Linked DNA regions of Homo sapiens: regions 2 and 3 are each linked to region 1. Evidence: fine-mapped expression QTL. A gene starts in region 1. Each other region holds a variant in brackets. All regions are shown on one strand. Distances are from middle to middle. Region 1 holds the start of ANGPT1 (angiopoietin 1). Region 2 has its middle 180 kb from the start of ANGPT1. Region 3 has its middle 130 kb from the start of ANGPT1.

What was found.
Region 2: its variant is fine-mapped to the expression of ANGPT1 in whole blood (INTERVAL, PIP above 0.99).
Region 3: its variant is fine-mapped to the expression of ANGPT1 in whole blood (INTERVAL, PIP above 0.99).

The regions. Positions count from the first base shown.
Region 1 is chr8:107,496,648-107,499,417 of GRCh38, forward strand. It overlaps ANGPT1 (angiopoietin 1), which reads right to left and starts at 1,271. Exons shown (of 9, transcript NM_001146.5): 1 at 615-1,271. The coding sequence starts at 911.
Region 2 is chr8:107,672,690-107,675,459 of GRCh38, forward strand. No RefSeq gene overlaps it. Among named protein-coding and RNA genes, the nearest start is that of ANGPT1, 180 kb to the left of the region's middle. The variant T/C (reference allele first, on the strand shown) is at 1,677.
Region 3 is chr8:107,629,789-107,632,558 of GRCh38, forward strand. No RefSeq gene overlaps it. Among named protein-coding and RNA genes, the nearest start is that of ANGPT1, 130 kb to the left of the region's middle. The variant A/G (reference allele first, on the strand shown) is at 1,542.

The sequences.
Region 1 (2,770 bases):
AATTTTTTTTCTCAAGGACAGAAGAAAAAAATATTTAACAGAAATCAGTCTACTATTCTACCACTTGCTGAAACTAACAGTTCCCTTTACATAAATATACAATTTCTCCAACCAAATATCATATTTTATATTTACTCTCACTTCATGTTAATTTTTATAAAGGTTAAAAAAACAAATACTTTGTGATGATTTGCCACCCCAGCGGCACAAAATTTTCTGGTGCAAAATCGATTTGATCTTATTAATTAATATTGTCATTATTATTTATTTTTCACCAACTTGCTTAAGAGGTACATACTTTCTTTCTTAAGGTAGTGTTTTGACAGAGAGAACCTTAATGCTGAACTTTAGAAAAGAGAAACCAAAAATGTCATAAAATTTGCCAGGGCTAGACACACAAACGGGGTGCCCCCACACATTCATAGGTTTGGGCAAGCCCCCAAACCTTGGCTTACCCAGGAAGCCAAACCCAGACAGCCGTCTTGCAATTGCAAACACTGCCCCCCTGGAGCAAAAGGTAAATACACAAATGCTCCCCTAAGGAACTTTAAGTTAGCTGCAGTGCAAGAAAGGAAAAAGGTCCGTGCTATTAGAAACTGAAAGCAATCACTTACTTTTTGCAGCCACTGAGTATAATTTTCCATCACATGTTCCAGATGTTGAAGTTTCTGGGAAGAGAAATCCGGTTCCACGTGTGGAGCATCTCTCTGCAGAGCGTTTGTGTTGTACTGGTCTGTCGTACTCTCACGACAGTTGCCATCGTGTTCTGGAAGAATGAAAGTGTAGGCACATTGCCCATGTTGAATCCGGTTATATCTTCTCCCACTGTTTTCTGGACTTCGGCGCTGATTGCTGCACCCTATGTGAGTCAGAATGGCAGCGAGGAAAGCAAAGGAAAGGAAAACTGTCATTGTACTGCCAGCACACTCCTTCCGTGCCTCTCGCAAAACTTGCTCCTTTCTTCTGACCTCTAAAACTAGTTCTTTATTTCAGGTAAAACTGCTTGTTTGTTTGACTCTTTCCCCCTCAAAGAAAGCGTTTGAAGAAGAATCATAGAAAACTAGCCATTTGTTAGCTTTGTTCTAAAATTTTAAAATTTTTTATTTCACTGCAATGATGTTTTTCTTCGTTAAAACTTGAGATATTTATTGCATAGTAGCTGAGATTTATTGTTTCCTCTCTGTGTGACCGTTCAGCATGGAGCCTGCCTGAGTCAGCTGCGTGTACATATTCTAGACCCTTTCCTCTACCCTATCTGCTGCAGATCTGCTATTTTCTCCCAGACCTCAGTGAGTTTTATTAAGGTTGCACATCCAAGCCAAGCTGGAAGCAGGCAGCCTTTCACAAGATGACTTGACAGGAATGCATGAGTGTGCCCCTATACTAAGGATTGCTGATGGCTTAGGGCGGCGGGATCGTCTTACAAATTGGCTAGATGCGCATGACCTCGATCATGTATGGCCCTCCCGCCCCTTTCCACAGACAATTGCCTTGAGCCTTTAGCAGATTCATGGCAAATCAATAAATAGAGCAGTCCACCTTAATACACTTTTGGTGTGCATGCTGACCTACTAAAATATAGCAAACTAGCAGTATGTTTTTAAAGTTACTATTTAGTCGAGGGACCCTAAGAAGAAAATTGGCATAATGTCCAATGGAATTATTTTTGATAGAGAATGATAAACCCATATCATTATTAAATGTCTTTAAAAAACATGTATTCTTGACTCTGAGGAAAAATATGTTAAAAAACAGTTTTTACAGATGGTATTCTTTCATTGTATTCACTTAGACTTTTAGGAGTTGAAGAAAATAATCAGAGAGGATCAAATTAGCAAGAAAATTAGCATCATTTGTTGCTCAAAGCAATATGTTGCACAAAGCAATATAGTATGTGCATATTAAAGAGGGTTATCTAAGTACCTTTTGGTATAGGGTTCTTAAATGAAACTGGTGTCCTGATCAGAATGCAACCCTTCATGTTCTGTGTATATAAATTGAGCAACTTCCCTACAAAAACAATGTGGCTACAATTTAAAGCAGTGGCTTGAGAATTATTAATTCCTGTGGTATATCCTAATCCTGTATTTTACAAGGATCTCTTTGGTGGCTATGGCTGTCTTTAACACTGGTGTGGAAGTTCCACATAAAAACCTCCTGTGGCTGCACAGACATACTATGTGAGAACAAGCATATATCAGGTGTGCTAACAGCCAGCAATGGGCTGTACAGGAGACATCTCTGTGCTTCTGTGAAGGAAGAAAGAAAAATTATCAGAAGATGATTTCCCACAGGCAGCGTATAAACATTTGAACAAAGGGACCCATAAACATAAACAGGCAATAATTGTAGAATTTAGGGAACGGCTTTGAGATCTTTACTAGATGCAGAAAACCTGAATTATGAGTTGGGATTTTCATTAGGAACTGGGAGGGCTTTTAGACAACTGCAGTCATGGTGTGAAAACAGAAGCCACAGCTGTCATCTCCCATGTCTTGGAAGGAGAACAGGGCAGTGGGTGAAGGTCCGTAGTGGTTAGAGATGGGCATTTAGGGAGAAGTTAGAGGAGAGGTCAAAACAAATTCCAGAACAAATGCGATTTACTTGGGGAAAGAAACCTTGCCGAGATTCATCAGTCCTTTCCACACCAAATAACAAATTTCTGATTGGACAGATATGGAAGCAAGTTATGCCAAACACAGCAATAAAATATTTGAACCACTTTTGCAGCCTCTTGAACTTTTGCGTGTCTCCTCATTGAGTCATGTAT
Region 2 (2,770 bases), 180 kb after region 1:
TTTGTCAAGAGCTGTAAATCCTCAAGTCCTTCCAGTCTCCAGCTGGTGTCTTACACTGTCCAAGTCTCTGAACCATCCTGATCTGTCCTGTGCTGCTTTCTCTTACAGGCTCCTGGGGTTTGGCAATTTGGTTGCATGTGTGTGTTTTTCCTCCATGGTATCTTGTCCCTGTGGTTATTTTCCTGGAACATAATGTCCTGTCATTTCTGCCTAGAAAACCCCTAGTCATGCTTCAACCACCAGTTCAAGTATCTTCCTCAACTCCTTCCTGCAGGTAACTACCACAGCATATGTGCTAGTGCATTATTTTTCTTTACACCTGAGTCAAGTTCTTTAACCCCTCCCTACCCCCCACAACTTCCCAGAGGTGTGAGCCAAATCTTAATTCATCTTTGATTTTCCAATGACTACCCAGTGCCTGACGTGGATATAGAAGGTACTTAATAAATGTCTTTGTTCCTCAGCCAAAATCTATTTTACTGTGTTGAAACGTCTTTCAATGATAAGATCATTGCCTAAGAAAAGCTCTTTCTGTGTTTTTATCATTTTTGCTCTTAAAAATTTGCATTCTTGAACTTTTCTTTGGTAGATATTGATTGGTTCATTTTTATGAATAAGATGTACAGATCTTGAATGTACACACACACACACACACATTCACTCAAGTATAGCTACACAGAAAATAAACCTTTAAAGATATAGTTTTTGCAGGCTACTCCTCCAAGAGAGCTGTCTAGCATGTAAGCACTTTTAACTTTATGCTGAGTGGACCTAGAAAAAAAAAAAAACAAAGGTAATAAATGTGAGGGTCATAGTCATCGAAAAGGAACTGTGCACCCTGTTGCAATTGATTAGTTTAAAACTTCTCTCATCTTACCTATAAGCATTAGGGCCTGTCTTTGCTGCAAACATTAGGATCCAATCATCTGGATTAAATAGATCAAGGACTTCATAAGCCACAGATCTCATAAAATTTCTTCTTACAAATGCATCGTTTTAATAAATGTCTTTGAAGCCAATGGTGCTGATTTCATGGTGTGTATTCAGACAGTCAATGAAAAGCCTGGGAAAAGAGAAAGCAATAATAAAAACCTTCCAGTCGATGAGTCAAATTGTAAGCAATGTGCAGCTTTGTAAACTTAACTGAATGAAAGTGAATACTGGACCAACAAGAAAGATCAACTCTTGTATCCAAGTTTGATCTAAATCAGAACAAGCTTCTTATATCACTTGATACTGTTTTGCACATTGTAAGCATTTAATAAATATTTGCTTAATGCATGAATATGTTAACAGTGCTTTGCCACTCACCTGTTTTCCTAATATTAAAGTTTCTTATACATTTAATTATATCCTTTTTACATGATTCATACAATTTGAACTTTGACAAAAACAACAAATCTAGGCAGCCATGAGAATATTTCATTCTAGGAAAAATATGCAGCTAGAGTGTTTGACAAACTTAGGCTTGCAACAAAACCACCGAAAAGGATTTTTCAATTCTCCTTCCCTTTATTCTTCTGCTGTATGAGACTTTGTGAACCAAGAACTCACATGGACAAGGCAGAGCTGGGTGTGAGCCCCTCTTTTGGGGTGATTGCCAATGGGGATAAATGAGCCAAAAGGAACCTAGAACACTGTTCTATCTACATTTTCTTAGCTACCACTCATCATAG[T/C]CATTATCATCACATTATATTCATTGCAGCTAACCCTGGGACTGCCACAGTAAGCTTACTTTTCAAATGGACTCTGGTGGTCATTTCTTTTTAAAAAATATTTAATAAATTTACTTAAGACAGAGAGCTGATTCCACAGGGCCCATTTTGTATTCTCAAACATGGAAGCCTATAATTGGAAATGGATCAGAGTTAAGTCAGGAAATTCTCTGTATTATCTTTTAAAATAATAATAGTGAGTTGGAATGATTGGCTTCCTATTTTCTTTAAAAAGAAAATCATGGGCTTTTCCTTTTAAAAACAAAGTCATCAGGTTTCAGTAATTGGTTTTATATTTGTTTTTCGGTTTTATTTTTTTTTTTTTACTAACTTTACCAGGTGTTTGAGTTGATGTGTACATTTAGCCAAAAAATTTAATCGGTTGAATGTGTAAGAATAGCCTAAGTATTAAAGGTCTCTGAAAACTTTTAGAAAACTATCATCACCCTTCCAAAGCATTATCCATTGTTAATGTACAATCCAGGTGCTGAACAAAGCAAATGAAATGAAGTACACCCTAGGGTTTAGGAACATATAATACAAACAATATTTCCCCACAGCCCTAGTTAATAACAGTATTACTTTTGGAGGATAATAACCCTAGTAAGCATACAATTTGAGATTGTATGTAATCCTAAAAAGCAATTTAAGATTGTTTTTGCTTAAATTACTTTTGCTCTTCCTTCTTCACTTTTCATTGTCCTCTTCCAATCAGTTCCCAACATGGTGGTAGACTGTAGTGTCTTAAGATGGCCACCACATCTCCTAGCCTATATTTCTTCTCAAACCTTCCTGCTGTGTCTATTAAGATGTGGAATCGATGCCCCTTTTTCTTGAATCTAAGTTGGCCTTTCTACTGCCTCAACCAAAATACTAGAAACAATGTTAAGTTGACTTCTGAGTTAAGTTATAAAAATGCAATTCACTTCCCCTTTGTTCTTTTGAAATGCTTGCTGTTGAAACTAGCCACCATACTGTGAGGAAACCCAAGCAACCTATGGAGAAGCCCATTTTAAGGAAATCAAAGCTCTCAGAACCACAGCCTTAGCCAAGCT
Region 3 (2,770 bases), 130 kb after region 1:
CACAGAGAAGAATCTGAACAAACAGGTCTTGCTAAGTTTTACCCAGTTTATTACCGTTGGGTCAGAACTTTTTGTCCTCTAATCATACTTCTGCACAATTGTCCACAAAACTGCACAATTTTCCCTGTTTTTTTTTTTTTTTTTTTTTTTTTTTGGCAGGGGTCTTCATCTCTGAAGGCTTCTATGTCAAGTAAAACTTATACTACATAGATTTGTGTGCTTTTCTCTTGTTAATCTAATTTTTTATTACCAGGGTCTCAGTCATGAATTGAACAATGAATGGATGAGAAAAAAAAAATCTCTTCTCCCCTACAATTTTACAATTATCTTTTTGAGACTAAGTCTCCCTCTGTCACCCAGGCTGGAGTGCAGTGGCACCATCTCAGCTCACTGTGACCTCCACCTCCCAGGTTCAAGTGATTCTGCTGCCTCAGCTTCCCGAGTAGCTGGGACAACAGGCACACACGCCACCACTCCTGGCTAATTTTTTGTATTTTTAGTAGAAACGGGTTTTTGCCATGTTGGCCAGGCTGGTCTCAAACTCCTGACCTCAGGTGATCTACAATATTTTTTTTAATAAAGATTCATCCTGTAAAATCCATTTATTTACACAGCCTCCATTCTGGAAGCAAACTCACTGATAATATGATTTCCCTAATAATGTACATAACAATTCTATTTGTTTTCTACGTAGATGCGTTTATAATTTATAGTTTCCTTTGTGCATGATGATGACAGACTGATATTGGTCCTGTATCCCAAACAGGGATTTAACTAAGATCAAAAATTGGGTTTCAAAAAAAATCCTTTGATTTTTGGCAACAACTGTTCATTCTTTGGCTAAACCCTCGTCTGTAACATTGGCTTCCCATGTTTGAAGGGCTCTTGTATAAGCATGAAGAACTGGCTTTCTCTGCTCTTCACCCAGTGACCCATGACATTGAAACAACCTTTGTCTTCATTGTGACAGAAATGTTCTCATTCAATAGTTGTCACAGAGCACTGTTCATTCAAGGAGTTCCGCTTAGCTGTTACTCTGCAAATACATTTCCTATAGTTGATGCTGATATTGGGGAATTAACCTTTCACACCTCTTTTCCATTTGATCCTACCTGTTGACATTTGTATGCCAAAAAAAGAATATGTCAGTGTCATGAGAAAGAGTAGATATGAAGTTCCAAAGTGCTTGTCTGCCAAGTAGACAGGTTTAGCTGAGGAAGGTGACTGGGAAATGTGTGAAGATCACACCAGACATTGAGATGTATGTTTAGAAACAGGGAAAAAAAAAAAAACCTGATTAGCAAGAAAGCTGGTAGGAGCAAAATCTGGGAAGTGAGCAGATAATAGCAGGTGACAAAGTGGGCCATAAAGTGGTGAATAAAGAAGAACAATTTGCAGAGATGCATGCACCATTCAGCATGAAAACTTAGTAGTCGGTCAAGGAGACAATAGCCTTGACTGGTCGAAGTGGAGTTTGATTTGACTTTTTAGGACTTGTTGTAGAATGAGAATTCCCTTGATCATGTGGGAAAGTAGGGAAG[A/G]CCAGTGCCCAAGTCACTCATGGAACCTTATAGAGAGAATGAGGGGGCCAGCAAAACAGTAAATTATAACACTGCAGGGCCAGATTACAAAATGTTTGCTCTAGGTAACAAATATCTGTGTTTTCTTATAGAAGGAATAGAGGGTAATGCTTCTAAATCTACGTGTGTATGATGACAGATGTTTATGCTTCCAAATTTATCTACGTATGATGGCATATGTTTTTATTCATCAATATATTGCTCTTTTATTTCTCAGCCCTCTGTGACAATATTTTATTTCTTTCGTTTTGTTTCATATCTGTTTTCCTCAACAGGCTGTTTTCTTGCCCTGGGGGGCAGGAATCAGATTTATTCTGTTGACTATTCAGTATCCAGGCAGCAAGGACAATGCCTGTCACATAATAGGCGTTAAATATATACTTATTAAATAAGTTGATGAATAAATAAATTAGTACATGAATGATAAACTCAATTTTCATGGATGCTTATTGGTGAGTGACTAACTTGTAAAACTATGACCACCCAAAACTAGATTTGGTTTCTATGTTGGCAAAACATCAGTCTATTTGAAACATTCAAATGAGTAATCATGTGTTTGGCTAAATATTTATCACTCTCCAGGAATTAGAGAAATAGGACTTATAGATGCTTTCAGTCTTTTCTGTCTTTGAGTGAGAAAAACCATAAATAGAACTAGAGCCCTGTTTTCACGTTGGGGCTTTTGTTTTATAATTCCTAGAATGCATGGAAACAGTAAAAATACTAAATATTTAAAAAATTAAGAATGTGGATTAATTTTAGGGTTAACTAATAGGTTCAGTCTTTCCTCTATTTGGTTGTTAAGTCTCCGTACTCATACTTTGAGGATGTTTGAATCTATTTGTCACCCCCATCTGTTTACATTTAGATTTGAAAACTAGATAGCACTTGTGTAATACAATGATTCAATTTGGACAGTGCCATATTTTAAGGAAGCAGTTTTAAGAAACTTTTTTTTTCTCCACGAAGCTAGGACAACCTCAGTATGTCTAATCTCTAACTTCTTTTCCTGAAAGAGAATCTAAACAAACCCTCTTTTATGGTATATTAGAAAGCAGCACGTTCCTCGTTCACCAAGGATACTTGCTAACATCTCAGGAAAAACAGGTGCCTACGTATAAGGGTCTCCGAGCTCCCAAAGTCCTGCTGAATACATATAATTCCTCTTTCAGAAGGAAAATAACAATACA